Regions from separate parts of the Homo sapiens genome. Here region 1 is linked to region 2. The links come from fine-mapping of genetic effects on gene expression. A gene starts in region 2. The other region holds a variant in brackets. All regions are shown on one strand. Distances are between the middles of the regions. Region 1 overlaps SCIN (scinderin). Region 2 holds the start of SCIN (scinderin).

Region 1 (4,404 bases), 48 kb after region 2:
CTTTTCTCCAGGTTTTGCCTGGAGAGGGATATACAGGTCTATATTCAATTTGTAGTTTAAATCTAAGATATAAGATTTTGACAAAGGTACATTACCAAGACATATAGACTGCTTTATAAAATCATTAGATCAGTACGTGAACAAATAATAAAGTGTAAGTCCATGAGGAGGTGTGTGGCAAGAAGTCCAGTGGTAAAATCATTATGCAAAGGATTAGTCCAGTAATTTGCAGGGTTGTATAAGACAGAAAGAGTAATGCTTTGACCAGGGAAAGATTTGACTCTGCATATGTAAAGGTGAAGAAAGGGTACAGGATCTACCATTTGTTGAATTTTCACCATATGCTAGTCATAGTAATAATCACATGATAATTGAGCCATATTATTTATTATACCATTTTAAGTGTGGAAATTAGATTACAGAGACTCTTAGTAGCGGCTCCACCCAGCTCAGCCTGCCTGATCCTGCCAAGTGAAGGGAGGTGTCAAAAAGACAATGGAAGAATGCACAGAAATTAGGAACCCCAAAGGCAAGTTTCGGAAGCGTTCATCCAAGCACTGATCAGACAGAAATGTCCAAAGTGGGTTTGAAGCCTTAGGGAAAAAGGTTTGGTGATGTCTAGAAAAGGCAAATGACCTGAAATCTTAATACCTGAGATTTGCCCCAGAGCAGCTCTCAGACCACCAGGCCCTAATAATTTGTCCAGGGGAGATGTGTTCTAACAAGCTAATGTGAACCTCAGAAATGCTTGGCAGACCTATCCCAATGGTTGAGGTAGATAAACCAGGCTAGCAAAGCTGATGCCACAGAGCACTTGAATCACATCACCAAAGCAGGCCTAGAAGGCTTTTCAAATATACAATGCATGGGCTCCAATCAGAATAAATAAATCTGAATTTCTAGAGATTGGATTCAGACATTGGCATTCTTTTTTATATCAGCCCAGATGGTTCTAATATGCAGCCAGTGAAAACAACTGCTCTTGTTTAATAAGTTGGCATTCTGGCTTATGGCTTTTAATGACTTGTGATTTTGCTTTCTGTGTTATAGTAACTTGTAAGGTAACTTTCCATATTATAGTAACTTTTGGGGTAATTTTCTTATGAGTTTGACCCTTCAACATCTATCCTCTAATACGCTGATATTCTAGGAATGCTGAAGTCCAGTCCTGCCTGATAAGTTCCCCACTGCCACAGCATTCCCTGAGGCCTCTAGGGCTGCACTCTGTGTCTGGCATCCTCAAGACATGAGTGACTATTTAAGTTTACATTTAAATTCCTTAAAATTAAATAAAATGTAAAATTCAGCTACTCAGTCACACTAGCCACATTTCAGGTACTCATTAGCTACAAATGGCTAGTGAGAACTGTGTGGGACAGCAAAGATGTGGAATATTTCATCATTGCAGAAATTTCTACAGGACAGCACTGCGCTATAGCTAAATCTCTTGCAGAAGCCCAGTTCACTTTGTCTTTTTATCCAAATATGCTTTCCTACCTCTAAAATACCTCACATGCTTTCCCTCCTCTAAAATACCTTTATCCATTCTTTAATATATGAAATCACCCTCTATTTTACTTATGAATAAAGGAATAAAGGTATTTTTGAGGCCATCACTGAGAGAGAGCAGCAGAGTAAATGTTGGAATCTTATATCCAGAGTGGGTGGAGCTGGCTAAATAAGACCACAGCTTTCTCGGAATAACTGGTCATTTTATATCTCTGTGGATCTTCCCTAATATCAAATATTTGTCT[T/C]ACCTAAGGCATAAAATGCCTTGCAGCAAGTAAATATACCATAACAACAAGGATTAGCTTCACTCTTACAATTTATTTCTATGCTCCCTATGTTACACTCTACTGATTGTTTCTCAGTTAAGGAAAAGAAGTAAGATACAGAATTTACAAATTAAAATGTTCATTCTTGGAACCTGTGAGCTGATTCTGTTTTTAGTGAAAATAAAACAGAGTCATCTACCCTAAAATGATTAAGATGAGAAGAATGAAATGCCTCATTTTCTATATAAAGAGCTTTGAAGTAGAGGTTAGAAGGCCTGGGGTTTACATATTTGCTTTAATATTTATGAGACACGGATCTAAGGCAAAACTCCTAACTTCCTTCAGGCTCATTTTCTTAATCTATGAAGTTAAAGTAATCATGATACAGGTTCTGCCTCTCTCTCAGAGTTCTGCTGGGAGCACATAAGACCCTCAATGATAAATGCCTTTAGGACTTGGCACCAGCTTGGCACATTTTCATCCACAGTGATATGTAGCTTTGAGTTACATATTGTGCTTCTTCAAGGTCATGCATCATTATTGTTTTCTTATGATGCATTACAAATATTTATTCTAAAGTGGCCAAACATCTTGACTTTTTTGTATAAAGAAGGGAAACCACATCTTGAGAACAAGCCAGTGTAAATGTTGGAAGTTTTTATCCAAAGTAGGTAAAGTTGACTAAAAGGTAAAAAATAAATAAATAAATAAAAACAGAGGTACATGCTGTGAAAAACTAAGGATTAAGAGAGTAAAAGAGTATAGCAATTGTTTCTTGGCTGCCTGATCCTTTTATCTGAAAATACAAATTTCCACATAAGCCTGCTTAAGTTTTAAAAAGAAAAGTTCACCTTGGATCATAGTAGGGAAAGAAATAAACAAACACCAAGGGTGGTCTTGAGACAGGTCATGAGAAACTCTGAAGCTGGTCGATTATTAATCTCCTAGCTAGCTACGGGGAAAGAATGGGCATGGCTTCCATATGGAATGCCGAGTATGTCAGCCTGATTAGAGACAGGTACAAGGTAGGGAATGCTGAGAAATAAGGCAGGGTAGATGACATTCAGCATCTGAAGGGGACTTGGGTTTCAGACAGAAGTTTTGGGTCAGTGGGAGCACCCAATTCAGAATAATCTAGATTGCAGATTCCTGGGCCTCACCATAGACCTGTTTATTTACTCAATGGCTGGCAGCTAAGAATCTGTATTTACAAAGTAACACAGGTGTTACTTGAGTACATTGAAGTTCAGGAACCACTGCAGCAGATGTAAAATATAAATCTTTTTTATTTTTTAGTTTTTTAAAATTTAAAAATAAATTTTAAATGTTTTCCTGCTTTATAAAGGGATAATTGACAAAGTTTGTACATATATATCTATCAAATGATAGACATATATGTACAAACTTTGTCATATACAAAATGTCATATACAAAATGTGATATTTTGATAGAAGTATAAGTTGTGAAATGATTACCACAATCAATATAATTAACATCTGTCAACTCACATTGTGTGTGTGTGATGAAAATATTTTGATATCTTCTCTCTTAGCAAATTTCAAGTATAAACTACATTATTAATAACTGTAACCATCATACTATACTTTGTCTCCAGAACTTATTTATCTTATACCTGAAAGTCTGAATTCTTTCACCAACATTTCTCCATTTCCTCTATTTTTCAGCCCCTGGCAATCACCATTCTACCACTCTATTTCTATGAATTGGATATTTTGGATTCCACATATTAATGAGATCATGCATTGTTTATCTTTTTGTGTCTGGCTTATTTCACTTAGCATAATATACAATAGGTTCATCCATGTTGTTGCAAATGACAGGATTTCCTTGATCTAGAGTCATATTCCTACAACATAGGAGTAATGTGAAATAAGGGGCCTTGCAGCCAGTGTCCAGGAATAAACAGGAATCAGTGACTAACCATGATTAAAAATAATAATAATGACTAAGTGGGTAGGAGATCCAAATTGGAGGAGAGGAAGTATTTAAAACTGACCACATAATTTTAAGTCCATATAAAGAGGAGAGAATAGAGATACATTGACACAAATGGAGAATTGAGAGTGGCTAATTTTGTAGAAAATAAGTTCAGTTTGGAGTATTTAGATGACGGCAATACTTTTAAACAGAAACTTACAGAAAGTAATTGAAAGAGGAGCTCCAAACTTGCAAGATACATCTTGGCTAGAACAACTGACGAAATTTTTATGTAACACCTTCAAATGAGGCTTCTCTGTGTTTGTACCCCATTAAATTGTCAAAATATATGTTATTTCACATACAAAGGATTACATGAGCTAAATGCCAATCGCGTGGGCAACCCAAAATGAAAATGTTTCACATTCAGGCATGATCTTCCAAGCTGTGTTTACAGTTTATGTCAAAGATCAAAATGTATGGCCTAGTTGATAAAGTGAACATATTTAGTTATGTTGCTCTTTCTACGCCAGATGTAAAGCCCTTAAGTGTTGGACAACATGGTTAGAAACTCATTTATATACCCCAGTGACCTCAAATATTTGATAAATGCTTAGTTGAGCTCAATTTTAAAGTGATCCTTAGAGATGATACCTGACAATATATGGCATCTCTCTACCTCTGGAGTTAA
Region 2 (4,404 bases):
TGCCTTTCCTCTAATAAGGAGGTACAACCCTCTGTACCTCATTGGGATATTGGCCAATCACTCTGTGATTCTCCCCCATGCCCGCTGATAAATTTGTATGCCATTTGTCCTGTTAATCTGCCTTTTGTGACTTGATTTTTCAGTGAAACTTCAGAGGGTAGAGGGGAAGTTTTCCCTTGGCCCCTACACTATGAACTGAGATAGACAAAATAAATTAGTATGTTTATAAAGTGGAATACCATATGGTCAGTAAAAACCGGTAGCTCTATGAGTACTGTGTGTTGATACACAGACACACACACACACACACACACACACACACACACACACACACACACGGGGGGGGATTCGAAAAGGTTATATGTTACATTTTCTGTTAAAAATTTAAAATAACTACATTACCTATATTCTTGTTGACAAAATTTGAGTGCCTGGAAAAATACATAAGAAACTGGTAACGTAATTGCCTTTGGGGAAAGCAACTGGGTGGCAGGGTGAAATGGAGATAATTTTTTATTGCACACATTTTGTACTTTTAATTTTTTTACCATGGTCATGTAATAACCTATTAAAAACATAATTTAATTAAGGAAAAAAATCTAATTTTGCATTATTATTGACCTTCCAGGGATTCATGTAATTTGAGAAATTGAATGAAAACAATTTTACATGCATGAAATTCAGCTTTCTTACTCTATACATCCTGAGTGATTTGCCTTTTTCAGTAACAGAATCCTTTGCTATACCAGCTTGTTAAATGAATGCCAAATCAAGAGTAAAATTTCCATCTGTATTCCATAGTGTTTTAGCCATGCTGCAAAAGCAAAACCTGTAGGTAAAACAAAGAAAATTATCACCTTGAAGCTAGGTAACAGGTAACCCAGAAGTCCGGCCAAGCATAAAATTACAGCCACAAACAGCCCTGCAGAGAACATCTCAGGACGGCGGCTGCTGGGTTTTTGTTGTTGTTTTCATCTTTCTTGGCCAAAGGAAGCAGGTGTTAAGAGAGCTCAACCACAGCTCCTGAACTCTGAGATTTACAGAGCTCTGTCACCTGGGGTAATACTGCCATTCTTCCAGGTTTTCTTCCTGTCCAAGAAATCTGACATGCTGTTTTTCATGGTATTTTCAAACTGGAAGATCGAGACAGAAACTTTGGTCGTCAGGAATGCAGAGATTGCCCAATGAAATGACAGAATTGATCATTAGGATGCTTGTTACTCAAAAAGCCCATTTTTTAAAGAAGGATGTATTAAAATTATTCCAGCATGCTAATGTGGCACACTCCTCTGCTGCCTAACGGCAGGTGTTGCTATTAGCAGAGGAAGCCTTGTTCTAAGAATTATTCTAGAGGGCCAGAAAGAACAGGTATTGCTCCACCCGAGTAAACGCTGACTCAACTCTGCAGGGCTGGCGCGCTCTTTCCTCACCTCACCCCTCCTGCCAGGCACAACTGAGATCCAGAAATAAGAGGATTAGCGAGAGAAGGGGAAATATGCAGGACGGTAGTGATGGGTATGCACAAAGGAGTGCCAAGCAGTTTTAACCGTTAATGTTCTTCGTCTATTGCTAGAGAAAATGTCTTTCCTTGGAGGAGGCATTGGCACGAGTTACTATAAACTCCCTCTGAATCTCAAGACTTCTGGGACGCCGATTCCGCTCCTGGCCTGGGGCAAGGCGTGGGAGCTTGGAAGCCAGCGCTGCGCTCCCCGTGGGAAGCGATCGTCTCCTCTGTCAACTCGCGCCTGGGCACTTAGCCCCTCCCGTTTCAGGGCGCCGCCTCCCCGGATGGCAAACACTATAAAGTGGCGGCGAATAAGGTTCCTCCTGCTGCTCTCGGTTTAGTCCAAGATCAGCGATATCACGCGTCCCCCGGAGCATCGCGTGCAGGAGCCATGGCGCGGGAGCTATACCACGAAGAGTTCGCCCGGGCGGGCAAGCAGGCGGGGCTGCAGGTCTGGAGGATTGAGAAGCTGGAGCTGGTGCCCGTGCCCCAGAGCGCTCACGGCGACTTCTACGTCGGGGATGCCTACCTGGTGCTGCACACGGCCAAGACGAGCCGAGGCTTCACCTACCACCTGCACTTCTGGCTCGGTAAGGGACGGCGGGCGGCGGGACCCCGACGCACCAAGGCCGGCGAGGGGAGGGCGTAGGGGTCTGAGATTTGCAGGCGTGGGAGTAAAGGGGACCGCAAACTGAGCTAGCCACTCGCGCCCCCACGGGGCTGCCCTTTGGGGCCGGCCACTTTCTCCCTACCGAAGTCAACTCGCCGGCTGCAAACGCGGGGCTCAGGCGTTGTCCGCAATTGACTTACCTCGCAGGCTTTGACCTTTGCCAGGTGTAGTTCCTGGACTTTGGAGCTGGTGACTGGCTTCTTCCCCTTTCACCGTCAAGTATCCAAACGCCACTCTTGTCCAGGGCCGCTGCCTCAGCGCACACCGTCTCTGGCCAAGCCCCGCTCACCTTCCGACAAACTCAGTCCTGCTTTCCCTGTCGGGATGGAGAGGAAGTCATAAAGTCTGGGGGCATCTGCCGCCGCTAGGAAGAAGTCCTTTTCTTTTTCTTCACACATTATTTTTATTTGTTGCTTTCGGGCACTGGCTTATTTTCTCTATGATTGCGGGAATTATTGTTCTGGGCTTCTTTAAAACAGGATTCTACCCGCACCATGCTGCTTGTGGGTCTGGTAGACAAAAACTCCGCTTCATTCGGAAGCTGGCGTCCTCAGATAGAAGTAAGAAAAAAATACAGATATTTTATATACAAATAAATAGCTCTATATGGGTATTTCATATATTTATGTAGACTGCTTTATTGTTATTATTTATTATTTATTTTAGCAAGGACACAAGATGGAACAGAAACGGCTCCTTCAGCAGTAGTAATTATTTTGAGCTGCGTTCGTGCCAGGCTGTCAGGACACTGGGCCTTGTGTGTTCTTTTTCCACCTTCTACTTTTACTCATAAACATCCTGAATGTCCAGCCTCTCCCCAGGAGGTCTTGTGCCAGTGGGCACACCCTGTCTAACAACATGCCGATTCTCTGAGCCTTTTTGCCTTCTTTTAAAACTAGCTAGCCTGCCCAGTACTCGTGTTTGTTTAGTTTTATCCCTGAGCTTAGGAGGAAAACACACAAAACCACACACACTTACACATTTTTGAGTCCCTGAAAGCCAACACTGTAATTTCCAACATTTGAAGATTTTAAGAAACAAAATAATAGAAAACATTGAGTAGTGACTGTCTAAACATTGGCAAACACCTGGAACAGGCATTTGAGAAATGAGAAATGAAAAATACGTAGATGAAGATAAGACTTTTAATTATAACATTTGGAGTCAAAAATTTGTGTTAGCTTGAGGAGGCAGAGAAGGCTCAGCCTGAGTTCTGAACACATTTTGGCTTCTTGATGCATTGCTGTTATTCCTATTATAATGTTGTAATACACAGTCATCTATTTGTATTTTCTGCCAGAAAAGACTGAAACTTTTATAACCCATGTTCAAGAATGAATGATGCCAGATAGAATAATGATGTCCTTACAGAGGACTTTCCATGCAGAACTTAAATCTAGCATGAATGAAAGTGTTTGAAATGCCACATTTGCCATTTGAGTAAATTAAAATGTGAAATAATGCCATATCTTACTGTAGACAGCAGTTAAGTTTGACTTTGTCAGATGACCGCAAGGGAGATTTGAACACAATTCTTTAATTCTATACATTTTTATCCAAGTTGTCCTCTTAACTACTATATTTTGTAGGGTTTACAGATTCACCTTATTCACTTAATTATCTACTTAATTATCCACTTGATGCCCATAAATTTCAAAAATATAATAGAAAATGGTTTGGGCAGAAACATTTATAATCTTAAAGACATGCTAAAACTGAAGTCAATAACATGTTAATAACAAGCAAATTCATTCAGTAATTATTCAATATGGCCAGTACTGTACAAGGCACTTGTGGATATGAATAATTAATGAAACTTCTCTAAAAGTTCATCACCTCAAAGGTGCAAAAAGACAAAAAGTGATATAACACAGGTAGAATGTGATAATTACTGTGAAAGCACAAAGTTTCTGTGGTTATTGGGAAACAGAAGCCTTTAGAGAAAAAAAAAATGAGAGTACTTGGAAGTGTTCTTGTGTCAAGAGAGAATTATGGAGAGAAAAAAAGCTTCAAGTAAAATAGTCAACAGGACTTTCAGATGGGATTGCCCAACAGCTCTTCCTACTTCAGTTCCCTAAGAAAACAGAATTTCATCCAAAATAGTGTAGTCTAAGACCTAAATTAGGATGAATCCATGAGGATTCATCAGAGAGACAGATTGAGAGAAAGTCACAGGAGAGAGAGCTGAACTTCCAGGGGAAAAGAACATTTGGTTAAAGGAAATCAGCCG

Evidence for each region. PIP is the estimated chance that this variant, and not a neighbour inherited with it, causes the effect.
Region 1: its variant is the best candidate, but not a certain one, in a credible set for the expression of SCIN in minor salivary gland (GTEx, PIP 0.52).

What each region holds. Positions count from the first base shown.
Region 1 is chr7:12,616,908-12,621,311 of GRCh38, forward strand. All of the region lies in intron 4 of SCIN (scinderin), which reads left to right. Among named protein-coding and RNA genes, the nearest start is that of SCIN, 48 kb to the left of the region's middle. The variant T/C (reference allele first, on the strand shown) is at 1,755.
Region 2 is chr7:12,568,892-12,573,295 of GRCh38, forward strand. SCIN (scinderin) reads left to right here and starts at 1,829. Exons shown (of 16, transcript NM_001112706.3): 1 at 1,829-2,094. The coding sequence starts at 1,896. LOC107986768 reads right to left here. Exons shown (of 3, transcript XR_007060635.1): 3 at 1-2,490.